7 linked regions of the Homo sapiens genome follow. The protein of the gene in region 6 purifies or fractionates together with the protein of the main gene of each other region. This does not show direct contact. Each region holds a gene or a part of one and is shown on either strand. Other genes may lie near its edges. The genes, in order: PPFIBP1, WDR62, IGF2BP2, CPSF6, NIN, CEP152 and LNPEP.

Region 1 (3,500 bases), on a different chromosome or scaffold from region 6:
TAAATGCAAAAAGAAAGGGAAAAATTCTCTTTTAAAGAATTTCTGTCATAGTTTGAGTTTCAAGCTTTCTTATATACTAATAAAGCATTGCTTTAGGAAAGGAAGTCTTTTTTTTTTTTAAGACAGGGTCTAATTCTCTTACCCACGCTGGCGTTGCAGTGGTATAATCAGGGCTCACTGCAGCCTCCATCTCCCAGGCTCAGACGGATCCTCCTACCTCAGCCTCCTGAGTAGCTGGGACCACCAGCGTGCACCCACCATGCCTGGCTAATTTATTATTATTTTTGTAGAGACAGGGTCTTCCTATGTTGCCCAGGCTGGTCTTGATCTCCTGGGCTCAAGTGATTCTTCTGCCTTGGCCTCCCAAAGTGCTGGGATTATAGGCATTGGCCACTATACTTGGCCAGAAAAGGAAGTCTTTATAGTGATATTTATCTCTGTTGATTAGAGTCAGGAAAAAAAAATACACCCAAGAAAAGGAAGAAGCATAACTGAAAAAGAACCCTTGGCTTTAGTTACACAAGGGGAACCGTCATGGAGAGAAAAGGAAGGAATACAGAAAAAGCCTAAGAAGTAAATGAGGCTGGATTTTAAGGCTTTTCCTGCAGGCTCCAAGAAAAATGGCTCTTAGTTTCGACACATGGACAGTCCCATGCCTGGGAAGTGCATGCTTATAAACCTCAATCTTAAAACACTACCTCATCAGATGGCCGCCTCCGTAGACAGTTTGGTTCAAAGTTATTGATCCTCAGGACCTGGATGGCCCTTTTGATACTGAGATGGTGTAGCACACTTACAACCTTCAGAGACAGTAAGTCATCCTGCAAAAAAGAACAAAAGGAGGAGCTCACTGTGCTGGCCTGTAGCAGGAGGACTTTCTTAGGGAATCTCAGAAAACTGGAGTAAAAGGAGAAGAGCCCCTCAAACCAATATGCCCCAAGGTCTTGTCAGAACCCACTTTCCCATTTGGAACAAAATCTTCCCCCAAACCCCAGATTAGTATTTTTTGCCAATGAAGCTGACTTCCACCTGTTTCTCTCTCTTCCAGATGCTCTGAGATCTGTAGAACCCCAGGGCTCTGAAAAACACAGTTAGAAAAGCACTTGCTGGGTCACTACAAAAGGTGATCTGCTTTGACTTGATCTGCACATACTACAAACAGGGAATTTATTTGTTTCCTCTTTAGTTTTGAGAACTTTATCGGTGGATAAAGTACTTAGGCTTTGGATAAACTGCCCTCTCTGTTTCCTTTCAGCAGATAGTGAAGAGCGAATGATGCTCATTGGTGAACATGATCAAGAGTTGGCTTTCTTTTTTCATCTTTTTTTTTTTTGGAGAGATAGGATCTCACTATACTGCCCAGGCTATCTCAAACTCCTAGGCTCAAGCAGTCCCCCGGCCTCAGCCGCCCAAAAAGCTGGGATTACAGGCGTGAGGCACCGCTCCTAGCAAGGCTGGGTTTTCTGAACTAAGGCACATCATAATTTTGGGGAAAATCAGAACAGTGCTCTTATTATACTATTCCCTGACCTTAATAATTCTCTAGTTCTAAATTATTTTTTAGTAAGGACCTGTCTGCTATTGAATAGCTCTAGATTATTATGGTTTATCTAGCAGACATTGTGAACAATTTTGGCACAACTATAATCAATCAGTGCAAAGGTTTTGGTCAGAGTCAAGGAGAGAAGAAAAATGAAGTTATAAGTATCACATATATATATTACCAATCAACCCCTTCAAGGAAGAATTTTCACCAGTCTGTGGCTCTTGGGAATATTTTCAAATATACCAAACACACCAAAACAAATTATTTCAGAAGAAGGTGATATTGGGAGCAGTATGAAGATAAGCAACAGTCTACTTCCAAACACACCCAGAAAATAAACAAGGAAAGCATCCATTTTAGACACACCTTTCTGATAAAACACTTCTCATGAAAGAAAGAAAAAAATGTAATCTACTACAGAAATATTTAATAAAAATATTAATCAGTTTAAATCCTTGAGGCTACTAACCAGGCAAAAATTATTTCCTGAAGTTTTTCTGGAGTAATTCCTTAAAAGTAGTGTCTTAAGACATGTTAGAAAGAGTACTTATTTTAATCTAGGATTGAGACACCCATTCCAAACATTTCAGTCTGGACTCTTTTCATCTAACTAGTCTGTCAGCTTAAAAAAATATCTGAATGCACAATGTTTACAGTGTGATTAAAATGTTAATTATTTTTGAAATTCTTTATACTTCGAAGGATTTTAAAAAGAAAGTTTTATTTTATATCAAAACAGACTTTCTGAGTGATTTTCTTCCCAATTTTTTTAAAACTTTTTATTTTAAAATAATTTTAAATTTGTGGAGGAGTTGCCAAAGATAGAATAGAATTCTGTATACCTTTCACTCAGCCTCCTCTAATGTTAACATCTGACATAATCATGATTACATTCATCAAGACTAAGAAATTAATGTACAATTGACTAAATTGCAGACTTTATTCACATTTCACCAGTTTGTCCAGTAAGGTCCTTCTTCTGTTCCAGGATCTAATCCACATTAAAACACATATTTTGTGACTTAGGATTTCTGGGGTCAAATTTTCCAGGGTCATTTACTCTTTTATAGCCATTTCACAGATGCTTCTTGTGATTTTAAGCTTGAATTTGTTCACATTCTCAGGGGGAACATACTCACACTTAGAGAGGGAGGCAAATATTTACTGAATGTGTTCTAGTCATAATCGTGAGCTATTAAAAGCAGGGATCTTGAAACAGCCTGAGTTCAAACTCTCTATGACTTTCTATTGCTAACTGTGGAAACTTGGTTACCAAGTTACCCAACCTCTCGATTCCTTCCTTTATACATGTAAAAAAGTAGGGATAATAATAGTATTATAATACTATAGATACACAGAGTGTGTGTGTGTGTGTATATGGATACACACACACATATATACAAACATGCATATATGTGTATGTGTGTGTATATATATATATACATACTCTATGTATCTACAGTATTACATATGTGTGTATAATACTATGTATATACAGTATTACATAATTATATAGTATATATGTGAACAAATTCAAGCTTAAAATCACAAGCAGCGTATGTGAAATGGCTATAAAAGAGTAAATGACCCTGGAAAATTTGACCCCAGAAGTCGTAAGTCACAAAATGTGTGTTTTAATGTAGTGTCCTAGATTAGATCCTGGAACAGAAGGAGGACCTTACTGGAAAAACTGGTGAAATGTGAATAGTCTTCAGTTTAGTTGATTGTATTAACATCTACGTTAATTTCTTAATTTTGATGAATGTAATCATGATTACGTAAGATGTTAACGTTAGAGGAAGCTGAGTGAAAGGTATACAGAATTCTAGCTTTGGCAACTCCTCTGTAAATCTAAAATTATCTTAAAATAAAAAGTTTTAAAAACTTTTTAATATATATTATACACACTATAATAATATTAGTAATATTAACTAAAAGGGTTATTGAGAATCCA
Region 2 (3,500 bases), on a different chromosome or scaffold from region 6:
TTCTTGGGGACCAGAGGAACAGAGGGAGGAAAGCAGACAGCCTAGGACAAGGCAGACCAGGCCAGCTAAGGGTCCAGGGCCACCCCTTACCTCACATTGCGGTCCTGGCAGGCCACGGCCACGTACTTCTGGGTGATGTCAATGTCCATGTCATACAAGGTGGTTTTCTCTGCTACGTGGTGGGTACGGACAAAGTGTAGTCCATCCGAACCCTGGCAGGGCCGGCAGGACCTTCAGAGAATGCCCCGACAACCCCCCACCCCAGCCCCCAAGGAGGCCATGCCACCCTACCTGCTGGGCACTGCGAAAGTAGATGCTCTTGTCAGCCCCACAGCTGATCATCTGGATGTCTCTGTTGCCTAGGGGAGGAGGACGCTGTGTGTTAGGCAGGGCTGGGCCACATGGGCAGGGGACCCTAGCTGGGGAACTCCACTGCAAGAGCCATCAATCAACTGTGCTGGGATCAAGGCTTCCTAAAGGTGGTGAGGTGGGTGCTGGGTCTGGGTGGGACTCTGTAAGGTATGAGCTGTACGTGTGAGGGGGCACAGGTGGAGCTGTGGCCAAGGCAGGCTCTGCAGAGCAAGGGCATATAGAGAAACAAAGGCTGGGGACAAAGAAGGGACACCCTCTCCAGTCTGGGATTGAGATAGGTGACTTGAGTAGCGGAGTAGAGGCAGGACTGCAGCAGCGACCAGTGGAGACAGGCTGGGAGGCTCGTGCCATCAGGATCAACTGCAAGATCCACATGAGCCTTGGGCCAGGCCCCATGCATGTAGCGGGTCTTCCTGAATGCTCACCACCCATCCCACTGGACAAGCATGAACACAGAGGTTCACAGAGTCCTTGTCCCAAGGCACACAGAGAGGACAGGGGCAGGACTGAACCCAGGCATTCTCTGGTGCCAAGGTCAAAGCTGTTAAACACTGCTCTGAACCTGGGCCTCCCCTTTGAGCCTCAACTTCCGGTCCGTACAATGGGCATGGTGACAGTTCCTTCTCTGGAGAGTGATGTGAAGCCCTTGGAACAGGGACTGCCACATGGTAAGCATTAGAAACATTCTTGCTTTTATTATTCTCATTTCTTTTTTTTTGAGACAGAGTTTCGCTCTTGTTGCCCAGGCTGGAGTGCAATGGCGTGAGATGCCCCCGGCCGTCTCATTTCTTTACAGAATAACAGTTTGGTGAGGATGAAATGACAGAACAAATATAAAACTCTGAGTCTGGGCACATCACACATGCTCCTTCATGACAGGACATTTGAGAGGGTCCAGGCCTGACATACAAGTATTAGATGTTGCTCAAGGAGGAGTCATTGGCTCACAGAAGGGAGTGAGCCCCATATAAGGGAGGAAGGGTAACCTGGGAGGGACCCAGAGAAGGCCTGCAAGCCTCTGGTAATGTTCTGCTTCTTAACCTGCACGTGGTGAATCCAAGTACCGTATTTAACAATATTACGACCATGAGCAATTAGAACAGTCTCTGCTATCAACAACGTCCTAGTTCAAACCTTGCTCCTAAGAACTGTGGATACTCACTTCGGCCACCACGCCCAGCTTATTTTTTATTTTTATTTTTTTTGAGATGGAGTTTTGCTCTTGTTACCCAGACTGGAGTGCAGTGAAACAATTTTGGCTCACTGCAACCTTGGCCTCCTGGATTCAAGCTATTCTCCTGCCTCAGCCTCCCAAGTAGCTGGGATTACAGGTGTGCACCACCATGCCCGGTTACTTTTTTTGAATTTTTAGTAGAGACGGGGTTTCACTATGTTGGCCAGGCTGGTCTTAAACTCCTAGCTTCAGGTGATCTGCCTGCCTCAGCCTCCCAAAGTGCTGGGATGACAAGCATGAGCCACCACGCCCGGCCTATATTCTTCTTTTTTTTTTTTTTGAGACAAAGTCTCGCATTGTCACCCAAGCTGGAGTGGAGTCACTGGCGCAATCTTGGCTCACTGCAACCTCCGCCTCCCGGGTTCACACAATTCTCCTGCCTCAGCCTCCCGAGTAGCTGGGATTACAGGTGCACACCACCATGCCTGGCTAATTTTTTTGTATTTTTAGTAGAGATGGGGTTTCACTATGTTGGCCAGACTGGTCTCGAACTCCTGACCTCATGATCTACCTGCCTTGGCCTCCCAAAGTGCTGAGATTACAGGTGTGAGCCATGGTACCTGGCCATTATTCTTTTTTTTTTGAGACAGGGTCTCACTCTGTTGCCTAGGCTGGAGTGCAGCCTCCACCTCCCAGGTTCAAGCAATTCTCCCACCTCGGCCTCCTGAGTAGCTGGGATTACAGAAACAACACCCCGCCCAGCAAATTTTTGTATTTTTAGTAGAGACGGGGTTTCACCATGTTGTCTAGGAAGGTCCCGAACTCCTGACCTCAGGTGATCCACCCTCCTTGGCCTCCCAAAGTGTTGGGATTACAGGTGTGAGCCATTACACCCGGCCCCAGTCATTATTCTGTATACTGTACACAGATACTGTATTCACTTGTTTGGATATATATTTTACAGGAGAGTTGAAAGAATGAATCCTTTTTTAGCAGGGTAGCTAGCAAGGCGCAGGGAGCGGGAAGAAAGGGGCTCACCAGCGAACTTGATGGCGGTGATGGAGGAGGAGTGGTCATCCAGCGTCTGCTCCAGGTTGTAGTTCTTCTCCACGTTCAGCACATGGATCAGCCGGTCCCGACTGGCTGAGGCCAGCAAGGTCAGCCCTGTGAGAGGAGAGAATGAGACTGGTTCCTGAAGGCTGCGTGGGTGCCCTGGCCTCCCAGAAGGGCAGTGTGACCAAGCTGCCCAGTCCTCGGAGAAGGGGTCTTTGGTTCTTCAACTGTAGCCAACTTGGCCCAAGCCTGGCAAGGGCCACTCCCTTAGCTCTGTGTGGTCTTTCCCAGAGCCCCCACACCCTGGCATTTCACCTCCTCACCACCAGCTCAGGGAGGATGAGTCTCGATGGGCGCATGGACGCTCCTCCAGGGACATCCACAGCAGACGCCCCAGCAGAGCCCAGCGCTCTTGCCTGCTGGGTCTGTGCTGGGTAAAGCCCTGGCAACCTCTCAGCCTCTTCCAAAACCAGTGTCCTCTCACCCTCTGAGGTCTGGCTACCTGGGCCTTGTTCAGGTCCTATTGACTGCCTGTGGCCAGACTCCCATCTGCCACCAGCCTTCCCTACTCTGGTCACTTGCTATGTCTGAGGCCTAATAACATGACCTGAGGCAGAGGGGAGATCAGGAGAGGCGAACCGAGTGAAGATATGTTTCAAGACAAGTTGGTGGGGCACACAGCATGGGGGATGAGAGAACGAAAGAAGAACATGGGGAAAATCACATCAGGATATAACTCCACCAACTCTGTAACTCCCAAAGTGCTGGGATTACAGGCATGAGCCACCGTGCCCAGCCTAGAAAACATCTTGAGGAGCCGGGCATGGTGGTTCACGCTTGTAATCCCAGCATTTTGGGAGGCCAAGGCGGGTGGATCACCTGACGTCAGGAGTTTGAGACC
Region 3 (3,500 bases), on a different chromosome or scaffold from region 6:
CCCGATAATTCTGACGATCACTTCCTCATTTTCATCTGGCGTTTGGTCACGAGGCACGATGACTTCTGCACTGGTTAAGTTCTGCAGTTCGTTCACCTGTGAAGGGAGAAACGGCAACGGGTTGGATAGGTTCCCTCCCCGTCAACGTGGTGGGCTCAGGACGGAGTGAGGGGCCAAGAGGTGGAGCAGGGGAAGGAGGGGGGCTGGACTCTGCTCTCCTTTCCTTTTATCAAGGACACCCCGGGGGCTCCTCTGCCCCTGAGCACATGGGGCCATGTTGGTTGGGCCCTGACAGGCTCAATGACAGGGAGAGGGAGTCCAGCCACAGATTCCTGGGGCTGCTTCTGAGGCGAAGTTCTCTTATTCTGGAGTTCCCATCAACGCAGGCCTGCACATGCTCACAGAGACCCCAGGCTTTCCCATACCCCCCCACTCCCCACCCCTACCCTGTAAGATCATTCCTCCTGGACATGCTGTCCTGGGTGCTGACCACGAGCCCAAACCTCCTCTTGGTTAACTTTCCCTGCGAATCAGCCCTGCTGTTCCCTCCTCCTCGTTTTCACTCCTGCCGCCAAGACTTGCTCATGCTGTTCCTACCCTTGGATTGTTGTCCTCTCTCCCGGCCACTGGATCCCACCCCAGGCCCACCTCCATGAAGCCTCCAGCCCATGCTGAGCTCCTCGTGTCTCCAACCACTGCCTGCATTGTTCATCCTCCCCGCTGCCTCACTGGGCCTGCTTCCCAACAGGACTGCACGCTTCCTGAGGGCTCAGACCCCGTCCTCTGGCCCTCTGGCCTGATGCCGAGCTCACAGGCGGGTTCAGCATGTGCTTTAGGGGAAACCTGAAAGTCTGGAGGATGCAGAGAATTCAGTGACTGGTTCTGAAATAGCTAAACAGGACACCCAGGGGCTCAGGATTCTACTCCCTGCTGATCCATCTGCTTTCTTTTGCCTCCTACATTCCAGCTCCGCCTAAAGCGCAGTGTGTGCCCTGGAGCGCCGACTGCATTCTGGAGACGGGGAATCCTTTGATTCCACACCGCTTCGTTCTTTCGTATAAAGCTGACTCATTACATCTAGAACTTGGTTTTGAATTCCGTTTAAGAGTTTCTATGTAAAGAGCTTTACAACAGCTGGGTGTGGTGGCTCACGCCTGTAATCCCAGCACTTTGGGAGGCCGAGGCGGGCGGATCACCTGAGGTCGGGAGTTCGAGACCAGCCTGACCTGACCAAAATGGTGAAACCCCGTCTATACTAAAAATATAAAAAATTAGCTGGGCATGGTGGCGGGCGCCTGCAGTCCCAGCTACTCAGGAGGCCGAGGAAGGAGAATCACCTGAACCAGGGAGGTGGAGGTTGCAGTGAGCACAGATGGCACCACTGCACTCCAGCCTGGGTGACAAGAGCGAAACTCTGTCTCAAAAAAAAAAAAAAAAAAGCTTTACAAAAACAGCAAATAACACACATATACATATATACACATACACACTCAGGACTCAAGAGACCCCCGCCTCCCCGCCAAGTTCCTGCCACCCAACACTGCTACTTTGCCAGCAAGCCTGCACTAGGCTCTACTGGAACTTCTCAGTGGTCATCTCCCCACCCAGGTCAGTAAGTCACATTCCAGAACATACCTGGGTCTACAGACCACCTGGCTCATTCCAACAAGCTTCAAAGTTAACGCTCTGGCACTTTTCAAACTACACTGTGTTTGTTCCTGCACCTTCCAGTAGAAAATGCAGATGATCTTTCAAAAAACAATCTCCTCCTTGCCCACCCTCCTACTGCTAAACTAGCTCCCCTAGAGCCATGTTTGGGAAACAGCCAGAAGATAGAGCCTGTGGAGGGGGAGTTAGGGACTGGAGGCATCTGTCAGGAGGGCTGAGAGTCAGAAGAGAGTGCAGGGCACAGGCCTGAGTGAAATCCAGGGAAGGTGGTGGTCTGCCAAGTGGGTTAGCATCTCTCTCGGTGGGAATCCCCCCTTTCCAATTTTAATGGCTGCTACATGTGGGTATAAAGGGGGCAGAAGACAGCCTCTCTGTTTTCAGGGAGTGGAGGCCTTCACTGACCATGGAGTCAAGATGGGTATTACTGGGCACAGGACTGTGGTATTTTTGGTGCTGGGCTTACAGCACCACGGATTGGGGGCCCTAAGTTGTGGAGTGAAGCCGATGACATTTTTGTCCTTGGGATCCTCATGCCTCAAAGGGCTCAGATGCCAGGAGAGCCTTAGTTTATCTGCCAAAGACCCTGACTGTACATTGGGACAGAAGGCGCCAAGGGGAGACTGAGGGAACTCAGGCAAGGCCAGAGCGGGGAATCTGACCCAGGTGATGAAGCGAGCCCGGAGCACACTTACGGTCTTGCCACCTTTGCCAATCACCCGGCCAGCTGTGGAAGAGGGCACTCTGATATGCGCTTCCAGCTTCACTTCTTCTTTGGGGTTAAAGAAGTTTTCCTCTTTCAGTTTCCCAAAGATCCGTCCCTGGGCCTGAGAGAGCAAGACATGACTAATGACTCTCAGTCAGCCAGCAGCCGGCCACTTCATCAGTGCTGCGAAGGGCACTGGAGAGTCCAGACAATGGGTCAGTCCCATTCCCACACTCCCTGGGACACACAGGAAGCTGCGTGCCCCAGCCTCCGCTCACAGACCTGGGGGGCGCTGCTCCCGCCACGTCAGATGGCTGCACTTTGAAAAATGTGGATGGGCATTCATGTTTTGGTGGTTTGCACAAGACTGCCTCCTCTAGGGAGCTTTCTGTGTGTCAGGGCTAAGGGGATGGGTGAGGGGATGCAACTCTATGTCTTATTTCCATATTATCACCTATAAAGATTTGCTTGATTGACTGAATTTGTTCAGGGGATTCTTATCCCATCACCACAGGGTCATACCCCTGGTTAGTAAGGATGGAGGTGATGGTGGTGGTAATGGGATTTGAGGAGCCTGATATTGTTTTAATTAAAAAAATTTCTAATGGAGAACAGGGTCTTGCTCTGTGCCCAGGTTGGAGTGCAGTGGCACGATCATAGCTCATGTTTTCATTCTTTTTTTTTTTTTTTTTTAGAGATGAGGTCTATGTTGCCCAGGTTGGTCTTGAACTCACGGCCTCAAGTGATCCTCCCACCTTGGCCTCCCAAAATGCTGGGATTACTGGTGTAAGCCACTACATTCAACATAATCTTTCTTTTTGATGTCTAACTCCAAAGGCAGAGGAGCCAAGAACCTATCTTTCTTTTTTTTTTTTAGTGAAAAAGAACCACAGCTTACAATGTTCTTTTTTTTTCTTTACTTAAAATACTGAGATATAACTTACATAATCTGAGAGTCACCGTTTTAAAGTATACACTTCAGTCCAGGCGTGGTGGCTCACACCTCTAATCCCAGCACTTTGGAAGGTCGAGGTGGACAGATTGTTTGAGGCCAGGAGTTCAAGATCAGCCTGGTCATCATGGTGAAAACCCATCTCTACTAAAAATACAAAAATTAGCCAGGTGTGGG
Region 4 (3,500 bases), on a different chromosome or scaffold from region 6:
GTCACTCAGGCTGGAGTACAGTGGCCTGATCTCAGCTCACTGCAGCCTCTGCCCCCCAGGTTCAAGCAATTCTCCTGCCTCAGCCTCTGAAGTAGCTGGAATTACAGGTGTGCACTATCATACCTGGCTAAATTTTGTATTTTTAGTAGAGACAGGGGTTTCGCCATGTTGGCCAGGCAGGTCTCAAACTCCTGACCTCAAGTGATCCGCCTACTTCAGCCTCCCAAACTGCTGGAATTATAGGCATGAGCCACCGCACCTGGCCTACACTTCCATTTTAAAGCTGGGTGGTCAGATTACTAAATTTGTGCTATCGGTGATGGCCTGACAGAGCAGAAACTAAATTCCACATTAAGAGTTTCTGACTCCCAAACAAGCAACAAAACATACTACTTCAATGCAAGCAGTGTAAGTTTCCCTAAAGTTCACAGAATTTTTTTGACTTTCCTCTCCAGATCAACAAAACTTTACACATAAAACATAAAAGAATGGTAACTACAATATAGGACCTGTCAGTGTGCTATAATTATAGTAGTCCCCTCTTATCTGAGAGGGATATGTTCCAAGACCCCCAGTGGATGCCTAAAGCCACGGAAAGCAAGGAACCCTAAATATACTATGTTTTTCTTTATATATACCTACGATAAAGTTTAATTTATAAAGTAGGCACTGTAAAAAATAACTAATAAAAGAGAACAATTTAGTCATGCATGACAATGTTTTGGTCCAGGTGGTCAGATTATAATGGAGCTGAAAAATTACTATTGTTTAGCGATCTTAGCCCAATGCATTCCTCACGTTTGGGCTCGTAATGCTGGTGTGAACAAACCTACTGTGCTCTCAGTCATATAAAAGAATAGCACATACAATTATGTACAGTACACAATACTTGACAATAAGCGACTGTGTTACTGGTTTATGTATTTATTATACTATACTTTTTTGTTTTTACACTTTTTTTTTTTTTTTTTTAAATAGAGACGGAGTTTCGACATGTTGGCCAAGCTGGTCTCGAACTCCTGGCCTCAAGCAATCTGCCGCCTCAGGCTCTCAAAGCACTGGGATTACAGGTGTGAACCACCACACCAAGGCCAACTATACCATACTTTTAATCATTATGTTAGAGTGTACTCTTCCTACTTCAAAAAGTTAACTGTAAAACAGCCTCAGGCAAGTCAGTCCTTCACCACGTATTACAGAAGAAGGCAGTTATCCTAGGAGATGACAGCCCATGCATCATACTGCCCCTGAAGACCTTTCCAGTGGGACAAGATGCAGAGATGGAAGACAGTGATATTGATAATCCTGACCCTGTGCAGGCCTAGGTTAATGTGTGTATATCTTAGTTTTTAAAAAAAGCTTAAAAAAAAAAAGACCAGGTTCAGTCGTTCATGCCTGTAATTCCAGCCTCCTTTGGGAGGCTGAGGCAAGAGGATCACATGAGGCCAGGAGTTTGAGACCTGTGCAACACAGTAAGACCTTGTCTCTTCTAAAATAAAATTAATTTTAAAAGTTAAAAAAAAAAATTTAATAGAAAAAAGTTTAGGCCCAGTGTGGTGACTCATGCCTGTAATCCCAGCGCTTTGGGAAGCCAAGGCAAGAGGATCACTTGAGGTCACGAGTTCGAGACCAGCCTGGCCAACATGTGAAACCTCGTCTCTTACTAAAAATACAATAATTAGGCAGGCATGGTGGTGAGTGCCTGTAATCCCAGCTGAGGCAGGAGAACTGCTTGAACCCAGGAGGCAGAGGTTGCGGTGAGCCAAGATCGCGCCACTGCACTTCAGCCTGGGTGACAAAGCGAGACTCCATCTCAAAACAAAACAAAACAAAAAAAAGAAGTAAGTTTACAGTATAAGGATATAAAGAAAATATTTTATATAGTTACACAATGTGTTTGTATTTTAAACTGTTATTATTGAAGAGTCCAAATTTATAAAGTAAAAACGGGCCAGTCACAGTGGCTCACGCCTGTAATCCCAACACTGGTAGGTCAAAGCAAGAAGACAGCTTGAGCCCAGGAGCTGGAGACTAGCTGGGACCTCATCCCTACAAAAAAAATTTGAAATTAGCCAGGCATGGTGGCACATGCCTGTAGTCTCAGCTGCTCTGGAGACTAAGACAGGAGGACTGCTTGAGCCTGGGAGATAAAGGCTGCAGTGAGCCACAACTGCACCACCGCACTCCAGACTGGATGACAGTGAGAAAATAATCAATCAAGTGAAAACATTACAGTAAGCTCATGTATTATTGAAGAAAAAAGTTTAAATAAATTTAGTGTAGCCTGAGTGTACTGTACAGTGTTTATGAAGTCTACAGCAGCATGTCCCAGATCTTCACATTCACCCACCACTCACTTGCTGACTCTCCCAGAGCAACTTCCAATCATGCAGGTTCCTTTCATGAGTGCCCTACACAAGTGTGCCACTTTTTATCTTTTATATCAAGATTTTCACTTACCTTTTCTGTTTAGATATATTAGATACACAAATACCACTGTGTTACAACTGCCTACAGTATTCAGTACAGTAATATGTTGTACAAGTTTGTAGCCTAGGAGCAACAGGCTACACCATATAGCCTACATGTGTAGTAGGCTGTACCTTCCAGGTTTGAAATGCAAAAGCACTCTATGATCACAAATGACAAAAGCACCTAAGATGGACTTCTCAGAACATACCGCCATCGTGAAGCGACACATGATTGTAGAACAGTTTACTGTCATAAAAGTTAGCTAAATATAGTATCTCTCAAACTACCTTATTGTATGTAATATTTTCAGACCTCAGAACCACGGGTAACTGAAACCACAGAAAGTGGAACTGTGGATACGTGTGCACTACTGTATGTAGGTATCTCTCAGCTCCCCTACAGTGTACTCTAAGGGTAGAGACTACCTAAACTTTGTATCCCTCGTTGTTGGCACATAACAGACACTCAACAAATGTATTTTGAACAATTCAATCTTTTTTTTTTGAGACAGGGTCTTGCTGGAGTGCAGTGGCCCGATCTTGGCTCACTGCAACCTCTGCCTCCCAGGTTCAAGCGATTCTCCTGCTTAGCTTACTGATTAGCTGGGATTACAGGCAGGCACCACCATACTCGGCCAATTTTTGTATTTTGATAGAGATGGGGTTTCACCATGTTGGCCAGGCTGGTCTGCAACTCCTGACCTCAAGCGATCTGCCCACCTTGGCCTCCCAAAGTGCTGGGATTACAGGCATGAGCCACCACACTCGCGCTAAACAATTCAACTTTTAAATTATTTAGTTTTGGCCAGAATTTTAAAATCTACAATTACTAAATATTGGGCTAGTAATTACTACACTTGAGTATAAATGCAGTTTAAACTGAATTGATATGCTACTGTGAGACAGAATCACTTTCTTCTCAACTTCAAGTAATAGAGAGGTTTGGAAGATGTTCAAATTCCCCTTCCAGCTGTTCTCAGCTTGGTGACATCCAAAGACCTCTAAGAACTAAAGAGAACCCATAAGGAG
Region 5 (3,500 bases), on a different chromosome or scaffold from region 6:
CCAGGCAGGGGCTTCGGAGCAGCTGGCCAGCCAGCGGCTGGAAAGACTAGAAATGGAACATGACCAGGAAAGGCAGGAAATGATGTCCAAGCTTCTAGCCATGGAGAACATTCACAAAGCGACCTGTGAGACAGCAGATCGAGAAAGAGCCGAGATGAGCACAGAAATCTCCAGACTTCAGAGTAAAATAAAGGAAATGCAGCAGGCAACATCTCCTCTCTCAATGCTTCAGAGTGGTTGCCAGGTGATAGGAGAGGAGGAGGTGGAAGGAGATGGAGCCCTGTCCCTGCTTCAGCAAGGGGAGCAGCTGTTGGAAGAAAATGGGGACGTCCTCTTAAGCCTGCAGAGAGCTCATGAACAGGCAGTGAAGGAAAATGTGAAAATGGCTACTGAAATTTCTAGATTGCAACAGAGGCTACAAAAGTTAGAGCCAGGGTTAGTAATGTCTTCTTGTTTGGATGAGCCAGCTACTGAGTTTTTTGGAAATACTGCGGAACAAACAGAGCAGTTTTTACAGCAAAACCGAACGAAGCAAGTAGAAGGTGTGACCAGGCGGCATGTCCTAAGTGACCTGGAAGATGATGAGGTCCGGGACCTGGGAAGTACAGGGACGAGCTCTGTTCAGAGACAGGAAGTCAAAATAGAGGAGTCTGAAGCTTCAGTAGAGGGTTTTTCTGAGCTTGAAAACAGTGAAGAGACCAGGACTGAATCCTGGGAGCTGAAGAATCAGATTAGTCAGCTTCAGGAACAGCTAATGATGTTATGTGCGGACTGTGATCGAGCTTCTGAAAAGAAACAGGACCTACTTTTTGATGTTTCTGTGCTAAAAAAGAAACTGAAGATGCTTGAGAGAATCCCTGAGGCTTCTCCCAAATATAAGCTGTTGTATGAAGATGTGAGCCGAGAAAATGACTGCCTTCAGGAAGAGCTGAGAATGATGGAGACACGCTACGATGAGGCACTAGAAAATAACAAAGAACTCACTGCAGAGGTTTTCAGGTTGCAGGATGAGCTGAAGAAAATGGAGGAAGTCACTGAAACATTCCTCAGCCTGGAAAAGAGTTACGATGAGGTCAAAATAGAAAATGAGGGGCTGAATGTTCTGGTTTTGAGACTTCAAGGCAAGATTGAGAAGCTTCAGGAAAGCGTGGTCCAGCGGTGTGACTGCTGCTTATGGGAAGCCAGTTTAGAGAACCTGGAAATCGAACCTGATGGAAATATACTCCAGCTCAATCAGACACTGGAAGAGTGTGTGCCCAGGGTTAGGAGTGTACATCATGTCATAGAGGAATGTAAGCAAGAAAACCAGTACCTTGAGGGGAACACACAGCTCTTGGAAAAAGTAAAAGCACATGAAATTGCCTGGTTACATGGAACAATTCAGACACATCAAGAAAGGCCAAGAGTACAGAATCAAGTTATACTGGAGGAAAACACTACTCTCCTAGGCTTTCAAGACAAACATTTTCAGCATCAGGCCACCATAGCAGAGTTAGAACTGGAGAAAACAAAGTTACAGGAGCTGACTAGGAAGTTGAAGGAGAGAGTCACTATTTTAGTTAAGCAAAAAGATGTACTTTCTCACGGAGAAAAGGAGGAAGAGCTGAAGGCAATGATGCATGACTTGCAGATCACGTGCAGTGAGATGCAGCAAAAAGTTGAACTTCTGAGGTAATGTATGTACCTTCTAGACGTCACGAATCCCACAGAGCACCTCACCAGATCTAACTTCCACTGCTTGCCGTGCCTAGAGAAACTAACCTAGTAGTCTTCACGAAGAGAGCAGTACTCTCTAGACTTCCTTCTGCTTCTGTGCCGTATTAACAAATAAAATAACCTTGTTTAGGAGGCATTCCCTTCCGCTGTAGCAAACAAGTGTTCATATGGGGTGTGAAAGTTCACAATGGCGAGTGTTTGCTGTTTAACCATGTGCATCCTCAATGTACCTCTTTAACTTTTTTCTAGCACTTATTTCATTTAGATGGATAGGGGATTTTTTTTTTTTATTTTGCTAAGTGTTACTTTCCTCATTTTGAGGAAACATGTTATATACAAATGAATGATTTTTTGTGTATTATTAACTTAGTAGATAAGAACTCACTTCTTATGCTAATATAGAAAAAATGTTCTGTCTTTATAGTTTTGTACTCATATCACTTGAAGCACATGCTGATAACCCATAAACAGTGCAAATGGTCAGGCACCATGGCTTAAATGCCTGCAATCTCAACTGTTTGGGAGGCCAAGGCAAGAGGATTTCTTGAGGCCAGGAGTTTCCAGGCAAGCCTAGGGAACATAGCAAGACTGCCTCTACAGAAAAATAAAAAAATGTTTGCTGGGCGTGGTGGTGCACACCTGTGGTCCCAGCTACTTGGGAGGCCGAGGTGGGAGGGTTGCTTGAGCTTGAGAGGTCAAAGCTGCAGTGAGCCATGATCATGCCATTGTACTCCAGACTGGGTGACAGAGTGAGACCCTGTCTCTTTTAAAAAAAAAAAAAAAAAAAAAAAAAAAAAAGAGACAAAACAAACAGTGGAAATTTATCTTAGAACATATAATTTGAGGAGCCTCCAGATTCTAATAAATATGCTTGAAAAGCAGAGATACAAGTAGAATTAATTTGAACCACTGCCCACTTGACATTGTAAAATATAATTGCATAGTCTTCTAGCAAATTTGGTTTTTCAAAAAAAAAAAAAACTTGTAAACTATTACAGGACGTCTGAAATGTCTCTGAAATAATTTAATTCTGAATGTAGTTTTTCCTCTTCTTCAGACCATTTTTAGTCCTAAAAATCAGAATATAATGAGATGAATAAAATCACAAAGTAAACAGTGTACATATTTCATTGTGGCCCTTTGATTTCAATAGAGAATTTTCTTTCCCTAGGTACCCAGGGGCCTAAAACTAAGCTAATATAGCTTTGTAACATGGCTTATGTGTATTCAGAACAGGTAGGACTTGAGACTGAGATAAATGAAGACATTTGCTCAAAGCAGTATGCTTGCCATTGAGAAAAATCAACAACCAGAATGAGCATTGAGTCTTGATTCATTTCTCCAGGCTTAAGGGTTTTTTAGCTACACTTCTCTAACATCTTTTAGTGAAATTCTTACTTCCCAAAAGAAATGTGTCAATATGTCATAACTCGATTTCCAAATACTAAGAGACTACTAATTTAGACTTTTCTTTTTAACTGGCATTGAATACTCATCCTTTTGGAAGTTACTAGAAAATATTTTCCAAAGATGCCAGATGACTGCCTTGTAACAATTTTTTTCAATCTCTGTGCTTCAGATATGAATCTGAAAAGCTTCAACAGGAAAATTCTATTTTGAGAAATGAAATTACTACTTTAAATGAAGAAGATAGCATTTCTAACCTGAAATTAGGGACATTAAATGGATCTCAGGAAGAAATGTGGTAAGACGTATACTTACATTTTCCTAAGACATTTTTGCAAAGACTAAAATTCTTTTACTTCAGCTTTTAAAGCCTAACC
Region 6 (3,500 bases):
TGTCTCACCACTGGTAATAATCAATTGAAGGTGGGATCTGTCATCTCCATTGTAAACTTACTATTTTTTGTTTTATAATAAATGATAAGTATCTTATAGGATACTTTGAGACAATACAAATATCCTATTTCTCATCATATGTTCTCCTACTAAGATCAAGCATTTATTCTATTTCTGTATGTATTCATTTATGTCAGCATTCACTCACGGACATATATTTTATTCAATACATACAATTTTTAAGACTCATGATAGACTTTGGCGAATTGCCTTCCAGAAATGTCATCCAAATGTATACTGTCAGGTAGTACATGGGTCTGCCCATCTCTCTTTGCCTCCAATGGCAGTGATTATCTTTAAATAATTATCTTTGATGGGAAAAGAATATCTAACAATTGCTTTCATTTGTATTTCTTGTGTCACCACCAAAGTGGAACCTCTTATATACCTTCATTGTTCATTTGTTTTTCCACCTTCCCAGATTTATCTGTTCATTTAACTTTGCATATTTTCCTCTGAGAGTTTTCCTTATCTACTTTTCTTTTTATTCATTGATGGGGGTTACAAAGATTTTAAAAATATATCTACTCCGTTTCACTTGTTGTGTACCTGGACTCTGAGCTCTTTGCCACAACACAGTGGCTCATCCTTGTAATCCGAGCACTTTGGGAGGTGGAGGTGGGCAGATCACTTGAGTCCACAGCTGAAGTAACTTTGAGAAAAATTGGAGTTTAGATGTACACTACCGAGAATTCACTATGGCAATAGAGTAGCTGGACAAAAAGAATACTCAAAGATGAGATAGTTATTCCTTTGATCTATTGATCAACCAGACTACAGAGGAAAATGGGAAGGCTAAAAAACAGTACAATGCATGACCACTATCTACTGCTACACATGATAAAGTGTATCTGTATAGCAAATGCCATTAGCAAGTTTAATACAGAACAAAGAAAGCACCAAGATATCTGAGCTAAGGTTCAGACTCAAAATCAGGTTTCTAGTATCCTAAATCCTAGAGCACTCCCACCAAAATGCTTAAACTAATAAACTCTAATGTCTTAATGCAAATTGAGAAACAAGCTTTCATTCCCATCCTTTTAAAGAAATGTAGGGCAACAATGAAAACAGCTTGATTTAAAGATGTTAAATGTGCAGGGGGCAGGGCGGGGAGGAGTCTCTCTCATTTGCTGTTAATATTAAAATCTATGTTTTAGTCATCAAATGTAGTTACTCAGAAGAGGGAATCAGGCTGGAAAAGATTTTGATAGCAAAAACACTGTTTTTCCAAAATATAAAAATTAACCACAATCAAAATTCCACAATAATTAGCACAGAATATTATACATACTTTAGCAGAACTGTTCTAATGAACACAACTCCTAGTTTAAATAGGAGATAAAACAGTACTAAAGAAGGAAGTAAACAATTATCTCCACCCAGGAGGAAAAGGAGTATACTACCCACATTCCTTTTCCCTCTTCTTTTGCTTTTCTTAGTTATTAGGTGTTTTATATATTATTTTCTATTGGGAGTATAGATGGCTGATGATTTGTGAAATATGGAAGGGTAAAAAAAAGGATCTATAAAGGAGAGCAGCCCTAAAGATCTCTGTGATAGCATGATCTTACAGAAATATCTTTGACTTACTTATTAGTCATGTGTTTAGTTTCAATTTGTCTGAAATTGGCTCTGTAAATTCAAAAGTGTCACAAAGTGCTCCAGCTTCATTTTCCGAACTGAAGAATACAGAGGTGGATTTCAATGACTGACAAAACCAGATTTTGTGTACTTTCCCATAGTACCACGACCACTATATAATATCTGTACCATCATCACTATATAATTAATGTCCTCATATAGAATGACTTTTGTTGTAAGAACATGGGCCAGGAAAATCTCATAGAAAATACTACAGGATTTCTATGGAGGATTTATTTTAACTAGATTTTAGAGCACTATTGGTAAAAGCCAATCTTAAAGAAATGCAGATTCCTTGTTACAGAGAATACTTCCTTGTATTTATGGTAAAGGAATTTTACCTAATTGGTATCTCATTTACTAGGTGCCAAGAGTAACCAGAAAAAACATACAGATGCTTTTCAACTTACAATGGGTTTATCACCTAATAAAATCATTATAAGTTGAAAATATCATTAAGTCAAAAATGCATTTAATGCATCTAACCTATTAAAACCATAGCTTAGCCTGGCCTACCTTAAATGTGCTCAGAACACTTATAATAGCCAACAGTTATGCAAAGTCATCTAATGCAAAGCTTCATTTATAATAAACTGTTGAATATCTCATGAAATTTATTGAACACTGTACTGAAAGTAAAAAACAGAACTGTTTTACAGGTACTTGAAATATGGTTTCTACTGAATGCACATAACTTTTCCACCACTGTAAAGTCTAAAAATTGTAAGTCAAACCATCCTAAGTCAGGGACTGTCAGTATCCCTTTAAAAATGGCATTTCCTTCTTTAAACTTTATTTCTAAAAATGTCAAATAAACTCCTGAAAGCCAAAGGTTTATTAATTTAAAAACATGTAAAAGGGCTGGATGTGGTTAGTCACACCTGTAATCCAACACCTTGAGAGATTGAGGTGGGAGGATTGCTTGAGCCCAGGAGTTTGAGACCAGCCTGGGCAACATTGTGGGAACCTGTCTCTACAAAAAATTTAAAAATTAGCCAGGCATAGTGGCGTGCGCCTGTGGTCCCAGCTACTCAGGAGGCTGAGGTGGGAGCATCGCTTTAGCCTGGGAGGTTGAGGCTACAGGGAGCCATGTTTCCACCACTGCCCTCCAGCCTGGAAGACAGAGTGACGCCCTGTCTCAAAAAAAAAAAAGTGTAAAAGTTTTCTTTATTGAGCCTTTTAAAAATGGTTTTTTAACTCTATAGGCTTTACATACCTCAACCTCAATGCTTTTTTCATCCTTCTTCACTTGGTGGAGATCTTCAATTTTCTTATGACAGTCTTTGAGGTCATTTTGTAACTGAGACACCAGATGACGCTTCATTGAGTTGCTACCCAGCAAACGCTGTACTTCTGCCTTTAACTTCAGAATGAACTCATCTTTTGAAAGCTCTTCATTTGGGTCTTCTTCTTGTACAATGCTAATGGAGAAATTGTGATTTTTAACATTAAATCAAGTAATAAATCAGACATGGTTATTCCCTAAAAGCACTGACCACAGTGGTGAACATGTTTTGTCACCTATACAATTATATACTAGTATTTCAAAACAATTTTAAATGTTGTCATACACAAGGATTATCACCTTTGCCATGTCTCTATATACAGAAATACGTTTATTCACAGGAAGAGCCTTCTCAAGCTTAGTCCTGCTGCTCACTGTAAGTAGCTTAGAAATGTGAACTTTGACATAATTTACATTTGTGTTATTGGAAAACTGCATGCTGTATATACATGCCCTTTATGACTCTAACAGAAACAACATAAATATTAAGGAAGAAAAGAATACTAAACACTAG
Region 7 (3,500 bases), on a different chromosome or scaffold from region 6:
AGGCATTATAGAAGGAGAACTAAAGGCAAGAACTTTCAAGTTCCCATTGCAATTATACATTTGTGTTCAATCCCAGATCTCACGCAAGAATTGAAATGCAGGGCCAGTATGCCATTTATTTTAAAAGTATTACATAGAGGGAAAATAAAATAAAAATTATTTATCTGAATAGAATTATGGATCTTGCTTGGTCTCTTTCTCCATTTAAGAAGGATCAAAAAGTTTCCTTTAGATGTAGAATACTCATTTCTAACTATTTCTCTTAATATGTCAACATACATTAGCCAAATGGTCAGCATCAGTAATTCACATATTGTTTTACAGAGTAATATGAGAGAATGTTCCAATTGCATAAAGCAGATGTCGTGAGGATTTTGTGCACAAGACAACTGATATCACTGCTACTTAAGAATAACCTCCATACTGTGTGAACTCCATCTTCCCAGAATTTCAAACTACATGCTATGAATGCTAAGATTAAAGTACTAAATATATAGTCCAAATAGGGAGCTGAATAATTTTATATTTTGTCTCACCTTTTTTTCTGAACCAAATTAAGTCTCTCCTAGACCTTAAAAAAAATTTACACCAGAAATCCAAAATAGACTGGCATTTTAAAAAATAATAAACCAGTAAAGATTAAGGATATTAAAAATGATATATGTAAGCACACCACACTTCACACTTCTTCATGCCCTCTTTCTGTATTTCACTAAGTACCTCCTAAAAGTTCTGCACATTAGGAAAATAGGTCTTAAAGAATAACTCCTCTTTACTCTGCTTCCCAACAGACTTCATGAGGTGACAGAAAACTAGATTCACCTTAAAAATGTGAAAAACTCAAGATAACAAGTTTTGGATATAATCTTTATCCATCCTTTTCCACCAGCACACCCCTATCTCCACCCCACCATGATATATGCTCAAGGCGTTGACTAAGAGAGATAATATATTGTTCTAAATCACCATTCTACTATTTTGTATATAACTTCCTAAATTAAAAAAAAAAATCACAATTCGTGTCTCTGGTGTGGACAAAGGGATCTATATTGCAGAAGTTATCAGAGCGTAAAACCAGAATCATTTAAGAGGGCTACCTACTTTTTCTCATTACTTTCATCTGTGTAGGAGAAGCCATAAAACCCATAATAAGAACTAGATATATTTGCCGAGTACTCTATCTTCAACGTATAATTGTGCCCTGCTAGAAGGGCTTCGGGGGCAACAATGGCGATCTGTCCATGATATGCATATTCCAGGATCTCAGCTTGTTTTTCTTGGCTTGAAACTGCTGACATAAAGGTCACTCTTGAAATATTATGACCTGTGCTATGAAGAATGATATTCCATGTGACCTGAAGAGCCTGAACTGAAATTGTCACAGAACCCCTGAATGTCATCGAGGTTAGGTTCGGGTGTAGGCTGAGTTCATAGCGTAGTGGCACAACGGCAGTGGGAAGCCTGATCTGTGCCCATGGAAACAATTTCCCATTTGTTGCAAATGGCTGAATTAGTCCAATTGACTGGTTTTTTTTATGGCAGCCTTCTTTGGTAAAGGTACATCTGGGCAGTAAGTAAATCACCATGATTACAGAAACAGCAACCACGATGACAAAAGCACAGACCACCATGGTCCTTGCAGAGGGTACTGAACAAGCCCCATCTGGGCTCTGCCTGTAACCAGTTGCACTGTTCCGAAGGCCTGAGCTTCTATTCATGAAGGACATGCCCAGCAGCTTTGCTGATGACTCATAATCCTCTTCATCCTCCTCCATCTCATGCTCACCAAGACCCCGCACCAGCAGTCGGGAACCCCGGGGCTCATATTCCACCTCATCAGGCTCTAGAGGATGTAAACAAGGCTCTTTGGCTAAATCCACCACATCTGGTTCTTCCTCAAACATGCTGTTTTCAATCATATTCCTGGGGAGCTGAAGCCGATCTAAAAAACCAAAACATAAGAACAAGGCACAGAGTTAGAAAAAAAAAAGCTCATAATATTAATAACATGTCTTCTACCTAGACCACATTTAAACTAAGAATTTTTTTAAGTCACTAAGACTTATTTCCATCTCAGAGCTACTGAATTAAATAAGATGTTTATACCATTGAGTCATCCATTAAAAACTAAAACATAAATAAAAGTATACCACAGTTATGAAACAAGAAAGCTAAATAAACAGGCTATTATATTTTTAAAAAGTTAGCTGAGATAATATACTAATTTCCTTAATATACTCCTGCCCCACAACCTGGGACCCTGCCCTGGGCTTGAGAGGGCACTGTTTTGGCATTCCTCTGACTATGTCTGTCCCCACCAGGCGAGGAGTCAGTAGGATCAAAGGGATGTGCCCACCTACAGTCCACGGTTCCCCTTCTAGGGTTTGGGCACTGCAATCCCAGAATTTCTGTCCAACAGGCCTCAAATCTGCTTCCAAGGTATTTGTGGGTCTCATCCCTGAGTCTCATTCTCTCTAGGGAGCACCACAAGCTGGTATGCCCATTTCTAAGATTGAGTATGGCTAAGCAACAGGATGGGTTATTGTTTTCCCCTGAAAGAGGAATGTTTCTGTCCCACAGCAAATGGGAAGCAGCAAATTATATGGGAAATTTCCATAAGCAAGAAATGATTTTTAAAAAGATCAAAAGACAATAAAAGTCAGATAAAATTATAATTCAATCTGTTTTTCATGCTTCCATGGCTTTCAGAAGTACAACATATTTCCATGGGAAACAACCATACTGCACACCATGAGTGTTAGTGGATCTCAGTGGGAGCTTTTACAAACTACAACAAACCACACCTTCCGATTTGCCAAAATCACTGAGAAAAAAGACTCTAGAAGTAGAAGGGTCGATAATCCCCCATATATCAGTACTTCCTAGGATTAGATCGTTCAATGTTTTTTATTTAAAATTCATACAATTTTAGTTTTTAAGGGATCTCAAAAGTTATCAAATTGAAACCTCCACTAATCTTCCCTACAAGGGAAGATACTTTATACCTATCATTTCTAACCCTTACAACAATCCTATAAAATGGCAAGTATTCTATTTTAGACATGAGAAAATAGAAAAAGAGAAATAGATTAATTCGTCTTCATAAAGTCACACAGCTATTTAGTCATAAAACTGATATTAAAGCACAGGTCTAAAAATTTGATTCAAAAGTTTATGCTCTTTTCATTATATTGCATCCCTCTACTCAAACTAATTCAATAAAAGATGAGAGCCCTGAATTATTTATTTCATACCTGGCAATGAAGTTGCTAAGAGTATTATTTCACCATCAGGAGAGCAAAGCTTACAAAAAACTACTGAATATCTAGCTTAAGATAAATGCTATGTATTTTGTGCTATTCAACAAACACTGTAATGGTGGAAACTCTTCATCCATAAAACATATTATTGATAAATATTAGGATAAAATTTGCAGTTTTGCTGTTCAGTGTGGCCTGTGACCCTGCAGCATTTGCATCACATTGCAGCTTGTTAGAAAC

Evidence for each region.
Region 1: the proteins of CEP152 (region 6) and PPFIBP1 purify together in Homo sapiens (co-immunoprecipitation; one large-scale study listed by IntAct). This does not show direct contact.
Region 2: the proteins of CEP152 (region 6) and WDR62 purify together in Homo sapiens (co-immunoprecipitation; one large-scale study listed by IntAct). This does not show direct contact.
Region 3: the proteins of CEP152 (region 6) and IGF2BP2 purify together in Homo sapiens (co-immunoprecipitation; one large-scale study listed by IntAct). This does not show direct contact.
Region 4: the proteins of CEP152 (region 6) and CPSF6 purify together in Homo sapiens (co-immunoprecipitation; one large-scale study listed by IntAct). This does not show direct contact.
Region 5: the proteins of CEP152 (region 6) and NIN purify together in Homo sapiens (co-immunoprecipitation; one large-scale study listed by IntAct). This does not show direct contact.
Region 7: the proteins of CEP152 (region 6) and LNPEP purify together in Homo sapiens (co-immunoprecipitation; one large-scale study listed by IntAct). This does not show direct contact.

What each region holds. Positions count from the first base shown.
Region 1 is NC_000012.12:27,684,706-27,688,205, reverse strand, and holds part of PPFIBP1 (liprin-beta-1), read right to left. Parts: intron 822-3,500; coding exon 699-821; intron 1-698. UniProt on the Homo sapiens protein: May regulate the disassembly of focal adhesions. Did not bind receptor-like tyrosine phosphatases type 2A.
Region 2 is NC_000019.10:36,085,897-36,089,396, reverse strand, and holds part of WDR62 (WD repeat-containing protein 62), read right to left. Parts: intron 2,711-3,500; coding exon 2,585-2,710; intron 360-2,584; coding exon 292-359; intron 213-291; coding exon 91-212; intron 1-90. UniProt on the Homo sapiens protein: Required for cerebral cortical development. Plays a role in neuronal proliferation and migration.
Region 3 is NC_000003.12:185,647,043-185,650,542, forward strand, and holds part of IGF2BP2 (insulin-like growth factor 2 mRNA-binding protein 2), read right to left. Parts: intron 2,493-3,500; coding exon 2,361-2,492; intron 97-2,360; coding exon 1-96.
Region 4 is NC_000012.12:69,242,569-69,246,068, reverse strand, and holds part of CPSF6 (cleavage and polyadenylation specificity factor subunit 6), read right to left. Parts: intron 1-3,500. UniProt on the Homo sapiens protein: Component of the cleavage factor Im (CFIm) complex that functions as an activator of the pre-mRNA 3'-end cleavage and polyadenylation processing required for the maturation of pre-mRNA into functional mRNAs.
Region 5 is NC_000014.9:50,754,663-50,758,162, reverse strand, and holds part of NIN (ninein), read left to right. Parts: coding exon 1-1,671; intron 1,672-3,295; coding exon 3,296-3,421; intron 3,422-3,500. UniProt on the Homo sapiens protein: Centrosomal protein required in the positioning and anchorage of the microtubule minus-end in epithelial cells. May also act as a centrosome maturation factor.
Region 6 is NC_000015.10:48,769,570-48,773,069, forward strand, and holds part of CEP152 (centrosomal protein of 152 kDa), read right to left. Parts: intron 3,123-3,500; coding exon 2,918-3,122; intron 1,721-2,917; exon of another isoform or gene 1,651-1,720; intron 604-1,650; exon of another isoform or gene 1-603. UniProt on the Homo sapiens protein: Necessary for centrosome duplication; the function also seems to involve CEP63, CDK5RAP2 and WDR62 through a stepwise assembled complex at the centrosome that recruits CDK2 required for centriole duplication.
Region 7 is NC_000005.10:96,977,580-96,981,079, reverse strand, and holds part of LNPEP (leucyl-cystinyl aminopeptidase), read right to left. Parts: intron 1,943-3,500; coding exon 1,102-1,942; intron 1-1,101. UniProt on the Homo sapiens protein: Release of an N-terminal amino acid, cleaves before cysteine, leucine as well as other amino acids. Degrades peptide hormones such as oxytocin, vasopressin and angiotensin III, and plays a role in maintaining homeostasis during pregnancy.